Linked DNA regions of Homo sapiens: region 1 is linked to region 2. A link means that fine-mapping ties the variant in region 2 to the expression of a gene that starts in the linked region. Tissue or cell type: whole blood. Region 2 holds a variant in brackets; the other region holds the start of a gene. All regions are shown on one strand. Distances are between the middles of the regions.

The links. PIP is the estimated chance that this variant, and not a neighbour inherited with it, causes the effect.
Region 1: SEC14L5 starts here. The variant in region 2 is fine-mapped to the expression of SEC14L5 in whole blood (INTERVAL, PIP above 0.99).

The regions. Positions count from the first base shown.
Region 1 is chr16:4,954,390-4,962,493 of GRCh38, reverse strand. It overlaps SEC14L5 (SEC14 like lipid binding 5), which reads right to left and starts at 4,164. Exons shown (of 16, transcript NM_014692.2): 1 at 4,049-4,164; 2 at 3,108-3,221. The coding sequence starts at 3,170. RefSeq lists an enhancer at 3,637-4,172 and silencers at 3,976-4,271, 4,070-4,279.
Region 2 is chr16:5,058,051-5,066,154 of GRCh38, reverse strand. C16orf89 (chromosome 16 open reading frame 89) reads left to right here and starts at 199. Exons shown (of 8, transcript NM_001098514.3): 1 at 199-454; 2 at 3,581-3,730; 3 at 5,719-5,869; 4 at 7,545-7,662. The coding sequence starts at 247. RefSeq lists a silencer at 5,993-6,287. The variant C/T (reference allele first, on the strand shown) is at 3,839.

The sequences.
Region 1 (8,104 bases), 100 kb after region 2:
CTCGTCTCGAACTCCTGACCTGAGGTGGTCCGCCCGCCTTAGCCTCCCAAAGTGTTGGGATTACAGGCATGATCCACCATACCTGGCCACAGATAATATAGATTTGAAAGCCTTTTTTTCACTCTACCCACAGGTGTCAGTACCTAGAGACTCAACAGCGAAGGGAGTAAATGGAGCCGTGCCTTCATTTGTGGAACCTGAAGCTTACAAAATATGTTTAACATACCCAATACAGGCAATGCGAGTACATTACTAGTGCTATTCATATAGTTTTTCTGTTGTTTTTGTTTTCTTTTCTTTTTTTCTTTTTCTTTTTTTTTTTTTTTTTGAGACAGAGTCTCGCTCTGTTGCCCAGGCTCGAGTGCAGGACTGTGTGTCCAGTCCTGTCTTATTCTATGAATAAGCACCCAGCCCCCATTTTCTTGATTTGTGAAATGGGGATGACTGTATGCCTATATGCGCCTCATAAGGTTGTCATGAAGATGAAAAGTGATTGTGTGTGTGTGTGTCTGTTTGCCTCGCACAGGGCCCAGTCCTACCAAGTGACAATAAGTGGTCGATAAACATAAATAATCACCCTTAGTTTAAGGCTCTGGCAGCTCACATGTTCTAAGACCCAAGCACTTGTTCATTCATTCATAAGAAGAGAGAAACTGTCCCCACCCTTCTCTGACAGTCCAAGGACCCATGGTTCTCTGCCATGAATCTGAGACACATTAACTATAGGATGGAAAACCATCTACTGCATGTGCTTAATAAATTCCAACTTAATTTGTCACGTTTAGGGTTCTGAAAATATTTACAATCATTGCACTTGAAAATAAGCCATGCCCATGAATATAGCACTTAAGGCTATATGAATAGGGGCCGGATGCAGTGAGTCACCCCTGTAATCCCAGCACTTTGGGAGGCCGAGGCTAGTGGATCACTTGAGGTCAGCAGTTCGAGACCAGCGTGGCCAACGTGATGAAACCCCGTCTATACTGAAAATACAAAAATTACCTGGGCATGGTGGTGTGCATCTGTAATCTCAGCTACTCAGGGGGCTGAGGCACGAGAATGGCTTGAACCTGGGAGGCAGAGGTTGCAGTGAGCCAAGATGGCACCACTGCACTCCAGTCTGGGCAACAGAGTGAGACTCAGTCTGGAAAAAGTAAAAGAAAATGGGGCTCAGAAAAGTTCAGCAACTTTGTTGTTGTTGTTGTTGCTGTTGTTGTTGTTGAGACGGAGTCTCGCTCTGTCACCCATGCTGGAGTGTTGCGGCGCAATCTCGGCTCTCTGCAACGTCTGCCTCCTGGGTTCAAGAGATTCTCCTGCTTCAGCCTCCCGAGTAGATGGGACTACAGGTGCGCGCCACCACGCCCGGCTAATTTTTCTTGTATTTTTAGTTGAGTTGGGGTTTCACCGTGTTACACGGGATTGTCTTGATCTCCTGACCTTGTGATCCACCCACCTCGGCCTCCCAAAGCGCTGGGATTACAGGTGTGAGCCACTGCACCCGGCTTAAGTTCAGCAACTTTCTAAAAACATACAACCAGAGCATGGCAGAGCACAGCAGAACCCTAAAGCATCTGAATTCACGTCCCTGGATCTCTTCACCATCCCCTGGTGTTCCACTCCCATTACGCAGAAGCAAAGTCACTCAGGCACTTGCAAAAACAGTAACGATCATAGCTGGATCTCAGTGAGCATTTGATCTGCGTCAGCCCCGTACCAGGAGCTTTATACACATTGACTCATTTAATCCACAGCATGACACCAGGATTTGGAAGCCAGGAGATTCCCATTGGTGATGGGGAGTGGAGGCTCATGGAGGTGAAGTGACTTGCCCCACAGTCACTCAGCTCGTCAATTGGGGAGCTAGAATATGACCCTAAGCCAGTTCCTGCCTCTTTGCTGTCCTAGAACCATCTGCCTGTAACAGCACAAGGTATGTGGATGATTTTGGTGATGCTTTTAAATCCTCTGTGTGACAATAAACATATACGCATGTAGATTCATAGAATAAGACAGGACTGGACACACAGGCACACACAGCCACCAAGAGATATGAAAGTCCCTGGATAGAAGGCTGGGGTTAAGCAGTCAGTGCTGGGGTGGGACAGATGGGGGTGGATGCTAATGTTTCTTACACTTTCAATACATTAATTTACAAGACTTCGGTGTAATAACAGCGACAGCATATTTTGTGAGCTCCTACTGTGTGCCCGGCACACAGCAAGGAGCACCAAGAACTATCTCATTTACTCCTCCCCGCAACCTTGTAGCATTGTCCCCATGTTACTGAGCAGGGAAGTGAAGTGCTCAGAGGCAGAGGGATGCAGCCAAGAAGGAATTCCACATCCACCTATGTCCAGCTTCTGCCCCCAGGGTGAAAAGACCAGTGATCCTGGGGGCCAAGGATCTGGCAGCCAATTCTAGGCCTCCAACTGACTTGCTGCACAACACAGAGTACATCACAAAGCAAACCTACCCACTCATTCTCTCTCTCGTCCCAGTGTCAGCTTCCTTAAAGGGGAGGGAAGGGGGTCTGTGAGCAGAAGGAGGGCTCTGTGGTCAAATGTGAGGTTCTAGAGTCTCCTTTGTGGGGATCTCAGCCCCGACTCCACCTCTGCGTAGATACAGAACTTAGTGTCATCCCTTCACCTGTCAAAGCCTCAGTTTCATGGAGGTTACATGGGAAAATAACAGCTATCGGGAATTGGAAGAAACATCATCTGTTAAGACAGTGCTGTAAACATTCAATAAACAGCTGTTGTCATTATCACCACCATTCCATTTATCACTGTGATATGCCATTATATGAAATGACAGCAGTGGCTTGGCCCCTGATACCTTTGTTTTCTATCAGGAGAGTCTAAAGTAAGGGAGCAGGTCAGCTTCAACAAGGAGAAGGAAGAAAGACTTTGTGTTTTGGTCACTGGGCCGAGGATAGGATGGTTGGACAGAGAGGTCACTGGATAGAAGTTAAACCCACCAGGTCAGCTGAGTAACTCACTAATTCCTTCTGATCTGGGAGTCTAAGGAGCTCCGTCTTCCTACCGCCATAGCTGATCTCAAGCCCCTCCAACTGTCACATGGGGGCCCAAGAATCAGGAGTCACTCACCGCCATGACCAGCTCAAACGGGTACTTGTAGACTCGGACAGGAGACTGGTATCTTTGCACCATGTTCACGCTGGAGCACCAATGGAGGTCACCAGGCAGGGGTGTGCACAGAGCCTGGGGCGAGGAGTGACTGGTGAGGTTGCAGCTCCCACCTCGGGAAGCAGGGACACCACCCACCAAGTGTAAGGGGCAGCCCCTGGCCCCACCCACACAGCTCCCCAGCCTTCAAATTGAGAAGGCTGATATTCCCCCCAAATTACTCCAGGCCAAGCCCCAACAGCTTCCCTGTCATTAGCCATGGCCCCAGACCACGCTCAGCCTTCCAAGAGCAGTCAGCACCCCCAAACTTTCCTCTACCCCCACCCCTTCACACTGAGGGCCCCCAGAAGCCTTACGGCCACCCACACAGACACACACACATTTGCAATTCTTACACTCCCACGGTTCTATTCACGCATGCACCCCGCAGCTTGCCACAGACTTGCTGGCCTACAGCCCACCCCCGAGTCTCCTTGCACCTGCCCTCCCATTTTCCTCCCAGACACCCTGACATACACACACAGCCTTCACCACATTTCACAGGCACTGTCTCTATCACACACATGTACACACGCAGGTTTCCCTCCCACACGGGACTGCTTTTGCACACGCCTCCAACTTTGCACACACACCCTGAAACACGCACCTGCCCAGCTCCACGCACGCAATTCCCCTGGTGTGCACAGACGTGCACACACGCACACACACCCGTGCGCACATGCACACACACGTACACACACGTAGAGGCAATCGCACACGCATGCACACACAGGTCCCCGCAGCTTTGCTCACCCTCGCCCTCGGGAGCCTTTGGGAATGCAGCCTAGGGGAAGTGCCCTGGAAGCCCGCCTGGCTCGGGAGCTGAGCGCTTACCCGCGCCCGCCTGGCCTGGAGCGCAGTACCTGAGGCGGGGCCCGATCGCGGATCTCTAGCCTGGTGTGTCCCGCCTTGAACACCCTGCGGCCAGGACAGCTGTGGAAGGCCGGAGGGGCGGGAGCGAAACCTGCCGGGCCGAGAGAGCTCCAGGACCCGGGACAGCGGAGATCCTGGCCTGGCCCCGCCCCTGACCTGGTCCCGCCCACGTCCCCGGCCATGGCCCCGCCCAGGTTGGCCCTGCCCCCTAACTGGTCCCGCCCCACTCTGGCCCCGCCCCAGGCGAACTCCCCCTGGTTCTAGCCCCGCCCCTTATTTTTAGATGTCGCTTGTTTGACCACGCCCTCAGCCCAGTCCTTTCTCTAGATTGGTCACACCTCAGGAAGTCCCCTCCCCCTTCACTGGCCCCGCCCTCCAAGGCCCTCAGCCTCGGGGAATGGTAGGCCACAGGACGACCCCGCCCTAATCTAGCTCTGCCTCCAAGCAGACCCTGAGTCCGGGCCGACCCGCCCCGGACCCTGCGTCTGGCCGACAGTACTGTTTACATTTGTAGATAAGCAGAATTTACGCTTTTCTTGCTCAGATTAACCTCGCCCTCGTCCCGCTGCACTTGGGTCTGACTGGCTCCTCCACCTGTCCCCGCCCCACGGCCCGCGCATGCACCTTCGCCCACTCTGCACACCTTCACAGAGCGCCTGCTGGGGGTCAGCCCTGTCCAGGCGCTGGAGAGCCGCCGGTGAGCCACACGCACGAATCCCTGCCCTCGTGGAGTTTATACTACGGTGGGGAGACAGACACTCAATAAATAAGGCAAATATATGATGTGTGAGGTAGTGAAAAACTCTAACGAGAGAAAAATAAGCAGGAAAGGGGCTCAAGGAGCCAGCGGAGAGAAAGGACAATTTAAAACAGGTAAGAGGCCGGGCGCCATGTCTCACGCCTGTAATCCAAACACTTTAGGAGGCGGAAGCGGGAGGACCGCTTGAACCCAGGAGTTGGAGACCACCCTGGGTAACATAGCAAGAACCTATCTCTACAAAAAAATTTTTTTTTAGTTTAGGCAGGGCGCGGTGGCTCACGCCTGTAATCCCAGCACACTGAGAGGCCAAGGCAGGCAGATCAGCTGAGGTCAGGAGTTCGAGAACAGCATGGCCAATATGAGGAAACCCCGTCTCTACTAAAATACAAAATTAGCCGGGCATGGTGGCGTATACCTGTAATCTCAGCTACTCGGGAGGCTGAGGCAGGAGAATCGCTTGAATCAAGGAGGCGGAGGTTGCAGTGAGCCGAGACTGCGCCACTGCACTCCAGCCTGGGCAAGAAGAACAAAGCTCCGTCGCAAAAAAAAAAAAAAAAAATTAGCCAGGCGTGTTGGCACGTGCCTGTGGTCCCAGCTACTCAAGAGGCTGAGGCAGGAGGATCCCTTGAGCCCAGAAGTTCAAAGCTGCAGTGAGCTGTTACCTGGCCACTGCACTCCAGCCTGGGCAACAAAGCAAGACTCGGTCTCAAAATAAATAAGTAAATAAATAAATAAAACAGGGAGTAAGGGGGCCTCCCTTGGGAGAGTGACATTTGTCCATCACTCTCATTTTAACTCACACTTAACCCCTTTCAGCCCTCCCAGGACTCCCAGGGGACCAACCTTGCTCCCAGAAGTCCTGCCTTGCCACTCCTCATCTGTTTAGCCTACAAGACCCAAGAAATTGGCTCTGGACAGTGCTGTCATCCATGTATTCACTCATTCAACATTTACTGAGCACCTACTACGTGCCACCGTGGGGTGAATTCACCCCTTCAAGCAGGGGAAGTCAGAGGTGGCCAGGGAGATGGACAACCCCTGATATATTTCAAGTATGTCACTGCACCCTGTGAAAATCACCTCTCTTCCCTTCCTAGCCTGCATCACATTCTAATATTGCATTTATTCGTTTTATATATCTGTGGGTTCCTGGAGGTCTCTCTCAGGAGACTGTGAGCTCCCTGAGGGCAGGGGCAGTGGCTGCCTTATTCAGCTGCCCGCATGTTGGGAAGGATCTTACTGGGGACCTGGCAGGCAGGCAGCAGGTGCCCAGCAGACTCTTGGCTTAGGTAATCAAGGGCGGAAATGGGACACAAAGTTCCCATCCCTGTCGCAAGGTGGCAGCAAATGATAGCCCATGGCTCCTGGAGTAACACAAGGGTGAGTAGGTGGGGGACATGGGATCCAGGGATGACTGTCCTAACCCGGGCTCATCCAGGAAATGCCCAGCTCTGCCCAGGCATCGCCACAGAGCAAAGTGAACGTTAACACCGTTAGCTGCTGTTACCACCACGAAAGGCGTTAAGTCCGCCTCTCCTGCTGCCCAACATTGAGGGAGGACAATGACTGCGTGGGAGACAGAGGTGTGACAGCCCTGCGGGTACAGAGAGCTCAAAGTGGAAACTGGGGCCTGGAGGGGAGTGAGAACCCCACTCCCTCCTCCTCCAGCCCCAGGGAAGGGAATTAATAACGCCACCAACACTCACTCCAGCTTTTTTTGGGTTTTGGGGTTTTTTTTTTACGTGGAGTCTTGCTCTGTTGCCCAGGCTGGAGTGCAGTGGCGCAGTCTCGGCTCACTACAACCTCCGCCTCCCAGGTTCAAGCAATTCTCCTGCCTCAGCCTCCCGAGTAGCTGGGATTACAGGCGCTTGCCACCACACCTGGCTAATTTTTGTATTTTCAGTAGAGACAGGTTTCATCATGTTGGCCAGGCTGGCCTCAAACTCCTGACCTCAGGTGATCCACCCGCCTCAGCCACCCAAAGTGCTGGGATTACAGACATGAGCCACCACACCTGGCCCAGTTGCCTATTATTACTGTTCTACTAATTATTCCTACCACTTGTTGACACTCCATTGGCGCTTACTATACCTAGCACCATTCTAAAGCTTTACAAACACGAATGCATTTAATCCTCAAAGCAACCCCAGAGCAATGAAAATGTCTTGGAATGTGATAGAGGTGGTGGTTGCACAACGTTGCAAATGCACATGCCACTGAATTGGGGCCACAATATTAAAATGATTAATTTTCTGTTACGTGGCTTTCATCTCAATTAAAAGCCCATATACAGTCAAAACTATTTTAATCCTCATCTTACACGTAGGGAAACTAAGGCACAAGGCACAGAGAGACTGAATAACTTGCCCAAGGCCACACAGCTAGTAAGGAACTCATACCCAGGACTCTCGTTCTCCAATGACTTCTTCTCCTAGAGCTGCAGCTGATGCTCCGGGAAGATGTGATTTCCAAGCCCTGAACTGCAAGATCTCCAGGCACCCTGGCTCCAGGACAAGAAGGCGCTGCAAGGATAGGCTGATTCCCCAGGGGTGCTGGGCATGAACTCAGTCCCAGGGCAGGATCTTTAGCCTCTATCTGCTGCTTCCCACCTGCCCTGCAAGAATGACCCAGCCAATGCTGCCTTTTGTGGAGGTGGGTTTTGGGAACCCCAGAAACCACCTCATGTCTCTGAATGTCTTCCCAGCAGATGGGCCACTGCCAGAGAAGATTCAACCATTAGTGATGCATTTGTTTGAGTAAAACTCTGGACCCCATCCAAAGGCAGATGTTCCTGGAAGGCATCCTGCTGGGAATGTCCTGAGTTGAATGGCTCAGTGTGACATTGAGAATGGGGGTTAAGACCCTGGAATACATAATGGGCCCTGGGATGGCTCTGAAGCTGAAGAAGATGCAGTAAGCAGGGTACGGTCCCCAGCTTAATTTTATTGTGGCAAAATGGTCCGAGCACAGTGGCTCATGCCGGTAATCCCAACAGTTTGGGAGGCCGAGGTGGGCGGATCACCTGAGGTCAGGAGTTCGAGACCAGCCTGGACAACATGGCAAAAACCTGTCTCTACTAAAAATGAAAAAATTAGCCAGGCATGGTAGCGCATGCCTGTAATCCCAGCTACTCAGGAGGCTGAGGTAGGAGAATCACTTGAACCTGGGAGGTGGAGGGTGCAGTGAGCTGAGATCACACAACTGCACTCCAGCCTGGGCAACAGAGTGAGACTCCATCTCAAAAAAAAAAAAAAAAAAGAAAAAAATCAGCTGGGCACGATGGCTC
Region 2 (8,104 bases):
CAGCAGGCTCTACGCCCAGGACTGGCCTAACCTCCGCTGCCTAACCGTCATCCCCCTGCAGCCACCCTTCCCAGAGTCCTTTGCCCAGGCCACCCCAGGCTTCTTGGCAGCCCTGCCGGGCCACTTGTCTTCATGTCTGCCAGGGGGAGGTGGGAAGGAGGTGGGAGGAGGGCGTGCAGAGGCAGTCTGGGCTTGGCCAGAGCTCAGGGTGCTGAGCGTGTGACCAGCAGTGAGCAGAGGCCGGCCATGGCCAGCCTGGGGCTGCTGCTCCTGCTCTTACTGACAGCACTGCCACCGCTGTGGTCCTCCTCACTGCCTGGGCTGGACACTGCTGAAAGTAAAGCCACCATTGCAGACCTGATCCTGTCTGCGCTGGAGAGAGCCACCGTCTTCCTAGAACAGAGGCTGCCTGAAATCAACCTGGATGGCATGGTGGGGGTCCGAGTGCTGGAAGGTGAGTGAGCCCCAATTCCTCTGGCTGGACACTGGGAAGCTAGCTCTCAGCTTTGTCCCCTGCCCTGCTCTGTACGCCTGGGACCTGGCAGACTCCTGGCCCCAGTATAGCCTGCCTCGGCTATAAGGAGAGAGGAGGCCAGGGGCTGGATCTTCCTGGCGGCTGTGGCCCAGCTAACTGTTACGCAATTTTTTAGAAGTAGGAAAGATTTAAAGGCAACATGGGAAGGGATTTGGGAATTATCTTTTTCTCAGAATGAAATGATCCATTTGACAGCCCCTCCTCACAACGCCACGAACAAGGGGAGCAGGGAGAGTGCCCCGTTAACAGATATTTGTGGGAAGACCCCTCCCCTTGAATGAGGTGGCTGTGGACAAAACTGAGGACCCTCAAGATCGGGTTCCCACCCCACTTCCTCCACTTGCAGCCAAAGTCTCCTGAAGGTTCTGCAAAAACAGTCAAGTGTTTGTTTAGCTTTGAGAGCTATAAGATCCCCAAGAAGGGGGCTGGAGACAGGCCAAGGTAAACACACACATGCGCACATCATGCACACACACACAAGCACACATGCACGCACGCACACACACATGCACATCACACACACAAGCACGCATGCACGCATGCACACAAGCATATCACACACACACACAAGCACACAGGTGGCTCCCACAGGGCTGGGTGCTTCCTGGGGCGCATGTGATAGCAAAAGCTGTAGTTCACTAAGTATCTGCTCAATGTGGGCACAACCCAGGTGCATTGCATGGGGTACTTCAGTGCCCTCTCCCCGTCATCCCTGAGGTTACACCCATTATTATTATCCTCTTTTAGCAAAGAAGGGAGGGGGTTCTCTTAATCATGACTGGGCAGCATTCACTGGGAAAGCGGCCCCACCTAACAGCCTCAGACCAGGGTCCCCACTCCTTGGCAGCTGCAGTGAGCCCGGCTTCTCCACCCACGCCACATCCCACATCCACTGCCCCTTCTCCTCTCAATAATCTTGCTCCATAACAGATTCCCTAGGAATTCAGTGCTTAATACAACCACACCCGTGAACTGTGCCCAGAAGGGAGCAAAGGCAGTGCCAGTGCCTAGAACAGAGCTTCAGAACTGGACTGCCCAGGTTCAAATCCTGGATCTCCCCCAACTGGCTGCATGGCACTGAGTTAACTGCTCTCGTGGAGTTTTGGTTTCCTCATCCTTCAGCTGCAGCTGGTGGATGGGAGTATCACACGATCATGCACATGTGTCTCATGAGATTGTGTGTATATGTCATCTTACCAGTGGGGCTCAGTACTTGTCAGCCATTACTGTTTCCATCTATCAAAGCATTGAGCATCCTTGACTAGCAGCAACGGCTTCCTCACCTGTGTCTCTCTAAACAATGAGCTCCCAGTGGGCAGGGTCTACGTCCCATTGCAGTGGTCCCCAACCTTTTTGACACCAGGGACTGGTTTTGTGGAAAGCAATTTTTCCATGGACTGAGGTGGAGGGGAGGGTTTCAGGACAATTCACGTGCATTAAATTTATTGTGCACTTTATTTTTTATTTATTATTATTATTATATTATTATTATTTTGAGACGGAGTCTCGCTCTGTCGCCCAGGCTGCAGTGCAGTGGTGCCACCTCAGCTCACTGCAACCTCCACCTCCAGGTTCAAGCGATTCTCCTGCTCAGCCTCCCAAATAGCTGGGACTACAGGTACCCACCACCACGCCCGGCTAATTTTTGTATTTTTGGTAGAGATGAGGTTTTACCATGTTGGCCATGCTGGTCTTGAACTCCTGGACTTAAGTAATCCACCTGCCTCGGCCTCGCAAAGTGCTGGGATTACAGGCGTGAGCCACCGTGCCCAGCCCACTTTCTGTTTATTGTTATTATGTTATAATATATAATTATACAACTCGCCACAATGTAGAATCAGTTGAAGCCCTGAGACTGTTTTCCTGCAAGTAGATAATCCCGTCTGGGGGTGATAGGAGACGGTCTCAGATCATCGGGCATTAGATCCTCATAAGGTGTGTGCAGCCTAGATCCCTCGTATGTGCAATTCACAACAGGGTTCACACTCCTGTGAGAATCGAATGCAGCCACTGATCTGACAGCAGGCGGAGCTCAGGCGGTAGTGACAGCGAATGATGGGGAGTGGCTGTAAATTACAGATGCAGCTTAGCTCGCTCACCCACCACTCACCTCCTGCTGTGCGGCCCCATTCCTAACAGGCCATAGACCAGTAATGGACTGGAGGTTGGGGACCCCTGTCCTATTGGACTTTGTAGACCCGGTGCAATCACAGGAGGAGACACTCTGACACACAGGGAGCCCCTCCCTGTCAGCACTCCCAAGCCTTTACTTCTTCCCTGCGGGTTTGCCCATGGAGGGGGCTGAGCAGAGGGGGCGTGCCAGAGCCGGTCGCCCTGGAGGACTACCTCAGCATCCTTCTTAACCTAGCCCATCCTCCCTAACAAGGTTCCTACCTGACTGCAGCTGCCCCACTTCATCCCTCGCCCTCTCAGCCCTGCGTGAATGCTCTCACTCGGATGTTCTCACTCATGTCTCCCCAATTTCTGGCCACCTCTGGATCTTCACCATTGTCTCCCACCTCAACAAAGCCACTGCTAGCCCACAGGGTACCTCTGTGGGAATTAGAAAAAGGCACTTCCTTCCTGAAGTCACTTGACAGCCATCTGCTGGGAAATTGTCTTACTGCATATACAAACCCATGATCCAAATGTGTGTTGCCCTTGTGCAGTGTACAACCTGCTCAACTGTACACAGTGGTTCTCTACCCTGCAACCTTTCTCTGGCCATCCAACAAGAAAGTATATGAGTCAAGGATTTGAGGATTTGAACCTCAAGTATCAAAGATTTGAACCCAGGCCCGCCTCCAGAAACCAAGCTCTCAGCCACCACCTTCTACTACTCTGACACCCATTCTCATTGCCCAGATCACCCCCATCCTGGCCTCATTTCCAGTCAGCTCAGTAAATCCTTCCCCTCTGAGTGCTGGAGAAGGCAGAGAGGCTCCCAGGAAGCATTAGACTTTGGGGCATTTTTTTTTCTTGTTCCAAGGCAAAAAAAGGTCCCGATTCCAAATAGTTGAATGAATTAACTCTGTTCCCTTCCAGAGCAGCTAAAAAGTGTCCGGGAGAAGTGGGCCCAGGAGCCCCTGCTGCAGCCGCTGAGCCTGCGCGTGGGGATGCTGGGGGAGAAGCTGGAGGCTGCCATCCAGAGATCCCTCCACTACCTCAAGCTGAGTGATCCCAAGTACCTAAGAGGTGAGCACACGCAGGGTGTCCCATTCCCTCAGGAATAGCGCCTATGGGGATATTGACTGAAATAACCCAGCGTGGGCTCTCCTGGGGCAAGGCTGGGCTGGGACAGTC[C/T]GTAACCAACTTGGACCTGTCTGCTGAGCAAGCCACAGACGAGCCCTGGGGACGTGCGGTCATCCTTGACTTCAGACTCTGACGGGCTCTCCTACCCACACAGAGGTGTGCAGAGGAAGCAGGGTGTCTTCTCTCAAGCATTCAGCGCACGCACAAGCTGGAGGTCCTGGTCCTAGACTAGAGCGGAGAGGCTGGGCTGTCCCAGAGGGGAGAGTATCCAAAAGGCAATTCAACCCTTTGCACAGCAAACAGTAGTGTCCCATGTCACCAAATTATTTTAATCCACTTCATTAAATGTCAGTAGAAATTCCCGAAGTTGTCCACACACTATTTTTCAAAACAGTGGGGTTTATCTTTCTCATGCCTTATGACCACTGAGAGTCTCTCTCTCCTCACCAGCCCCGAGTGACCCTGCAAAAGGTCCCATCTAATAAGTTTGGCTGAGTTGTTCCTGGATGGCAAGGGCGGGGCACAAATAACCAGTCCATCATGCTGCTCCAACCCTGTCCCCTCTGCTCCCCACTCCCATCAGATGCATGGGGGTGAGCGGGGAGGTAGCCAGGCCACGCTTCATGCTCACACGGCAGTCCAGCCGCAGGGACCATAGCCCATGCTGACCTTTCCAATTTTAAGGTCCCCCACCCTCTCCCAGGCCTGGTCCCTAACACTGTCCCCACCTATGTCATCTTAAAGATATCTATGACTGGGCATCTGTTTAGTTAAGAGCTCCACGTTCTCACCAAACCAAAAGGTCTACCAATATCACCTCCCCACTAATTCCACCTCCCCACTTGTTTTTTTTTTTGGGGGGGTTTTTTTTTTTTTTTTTTTTGAGACAGTGTCTCACTCTGTCTCTCTTTTTTTTTTTTTTTTTTTTTTTTTTTGAGACAGAGTCTCACCCTGTCGCCCAGGCTGGAGTGCAGTGGTGCGATCTCAGCTCACTGCAACCTCTGCAACCTGGGTTCAAGTGATTTTCCTGCTTTAGCCTCTCTCAAGTAGCTGGGACTACAGGCATGCGCCACCACGCCCGGCTTTTTTTTTTTTTTTTTTTTCTTGAGATGGAGTCTTGCTCTGTCACCCAGGCTGGAGTGCAGTGGTGCAATCTCGGCTCACTGCAAGCTCTGTCTCCCGGGTTCATGCTATTCTCCTGCCTCAGCCTCCTGAGTAGCTGGGACTACAGGCACCTGCCACCACACCCAGCTAATTTTTTGTATTTTTAGTAGAGATGGGATTTCACTGTGTTAGCCAGACTGGTCTTGAACTCCTGACCTCAAGTGATTCGCCCGCCTTGGCTTCCGAAAGTGCTGGGATTATAGGCGTGAGCCACCGCTCTTGGCCCTGCCTCTTAAAAAAAAAAAAAAAAAAAAAAAAGGCTGATCATAGCTCACTGCATTCTCCAACTTCTAGACTCAAGCAACCTTCCTGCCTCAGCTGGGACTACAGGTGCACACCACCACACCTGGCTACTTTTTTTATTTTTGTGGAGACAGAGTCTTGCTATGTTGCCTAGGCTGGTCTTGAACGTTGGGCCTCAAGCGATCTTCCTTCCTTAGCCTCCCCAAGTGCTGGGATGACAGGCGTGAGCCCTGCACCTGGGAAACTAAACCTTTTATTTATCTGGGGTTTCCATGGGATGCAGTGGGTTTAGTCAAATCCCGTCCCATCACTGTTCCTATTGATTAGGGGAAAAAATGGTTTTATAAGCAAAAGGAGCTTTCTTGAGTGTTTCAAACCCAATCTGGGACCAGGGGACAGGGCTTAGAGCCCTGAGCTGCACCTGCCAGTGGGCAGGGCTGCAGGAGGAGGTGGGGACACCAGGGTGGCCCACTGCTCCTGGGTCACCCCCACACCCCACCCCATCTATCTGTCCTCTCTGCCAGAGTTCCAGCTGACCCTCCAGCCCGGGTTTTGGAAGCTCCCACATGCCTGGATCCACACTGATGCCTCCTTGGTGTACCCCACGTTCGGGCCCCAGGACTCATTCTCAGAGGAGAGAAGTGACGTGTGCCTGGTGCAGCTGCTGGGAACCGGGTGGGCCCTGCACTTGCCCTATTTGCTGGAAACCCAAACGCACTAGTTCTCAGCTGGTCCTGTCCCGCTCCTCCTTCTCCAAGCCCTAGGGCTGAAGCCAGGGGTTTGTGCAGACACAGGTGCAGCTCCCTGTAGCTGCCGGGTACTGCCCTCTCCTACTCCAGCAGGGTCCCCCTTGCTCCAGCCGCCCGCTGGCCTCCCATGCCACAGCAGGCCTTCCAGCAGCCATGGCTGAACACACCACCTCCAGGCCCCAGGACAAATCCCCAATTCCTCTCCGCAGTTCCAAGTCTCCAGGCCCCTAGAGGCCTCTTTTCAGACTCTCCAAGGCTTCCTCCCACTTCAAAGACTTTGCTCCCCCCACCCCACCCACTCCACCCCCTGGGCCTCAGGAAGTCTGCCCATCCTCCAGGGCTGGCGCCAGCATCCTACCTCCAACCCCATCCTATCTCTGACCCCAGCACATAGCAGACCTCCTGTGAGGGCCTCTCCTGGCACCTCTTATAGCCACAGATGCAATTTACATTTGTATTATGAGCCTGTCCCCATCCCCAGTGAGGATGCAGCTCCAGGAAGACAGGACTGAGCCTAGCTGGGCTCCTCATTTTATCCTGGTGTTTGGTGGGCTTGGAACAAGGCCCCAGGGCAGCCCTAGGTGCAGGGCCCATGGGCAAAGTGGGCAGCCGGTGCCCAGGCCGCATCCTGTCAGCATCCTTCAGAGCAGTGCTTAGGCCAGGACACAGCTGGATTCACGGAGGGGCTGGGCCCCAGCCAAGGACCTCTGCTTTTTAAAAATTTTTATTTATTTTTATTTTTTTGAGACAGAGGCTCACTGTCCCCCAGGCTGGAGTGCAGTGGTGTGTTCTTTCTCGGCTCACTGCAAGCTCCTCCTACCAGGTTCAAGTGATTCTCATGCCTCAGCCTCCTGAGTAGCTGGGATTACAGATGTGCGCCACCATGCCCGGCTAATTTTTGTATTTGTGTGTGTATTTTTTATTTTTACTTTATTTTATTTTATTTTTATTTATTTATTTTGAGATGGAGTCTCGCTCTGTCTCCCAGGCTGGAGTGCAGTGATGCGATCTCAACTCACTGCAACCTCTGCCTCCCGGATTCAAGTGATTCTCAAGTGATTCTCCTGCCTCAGCCTCCCGAGTAGCTGGGATTACAGGCACGTGCCACCACACCCAGCTAATTTTTGTATTTTTTGTAGAGACAGGGTTTCACCATGTTGGCCAGGCTGGTCTCGAACTCCTGACCTCAGGTGACTTGCCTGCCTCAGCCTCCCAAAGTGCTAGAATTATAGGTGTAAGCCACCGCGCCTGGCTGGTGCAGGAGGAATAAGCATGTTGGGCCCAGATTCCAAGTGGTCTGGGTTCAAGTACCCACTGTTCGGGGCTGGAAAAGATGTGATTTGGCCCATGGAGCAATAGGAAGTTTCAGCCTTGGTGGCTTCCTCAACCCCAGAATAGCTCTAGCGTCATCTTTCCTGGGCTAGGGCAGCCAGATTTAGCAAATCAAAATGCAGGACTGCTGTATTGTCTCTGTCAACCCCCATGCCCAGCTGGGTGTCTGGAATCTACTGGGAGTTCCAACAACTACAACTAGGGGGCTGGGAAGACGCAGGGCAGAGTCAGCGCTCCATCCTTAACAGCTTGGAACCACTTTCCCCCAGGACGGACAGCAGCGAGCCCTGCGGCCTCTCAGACCTCTGCAGGAGCCTCATGACCAAGCCCGGCTGCTCAGGCTACTGCCTGTCCCACCAACTGCTCTTCTTCCTCTGGGCCAGAATGGTGAGTGCCCAGGGAGCCCCCGCCGTGCCAGGGGAAGGGGAAGGAAAAAGGAAAAGGGGCAGCCGGACGTGGTGGCTCATGCCTGTAATCCAAGCACTTTGGGAGGCCAAGGCAGGCAGATCACTTGAGGCCAGGAGTTCAAAACCAGCTGGGCCAACATGGTGAAACCCATTCTCTACTAAAAATACAAAAAAAAAATTAGCTGGACGTGGTGGCGTGCACCTGTAATCCCAGCTACAAGAGGAGGCTGAGGCAGGAGAATCACTGGAACCCGGGAGGCGGAGGTTGCAGTGAGTAAGATTGCGCCACTGCACTCCAGCCCAGGCAATGGACTAAGACTCTGCCTCAAAAAAAAAGAAAAAAGAAATAAATGAAAAAGGGCTCATGGCAGTGTAGTTCTGTCTGCTACACACCAGGAAAATAAGCAGAGCTTTGGATTTCT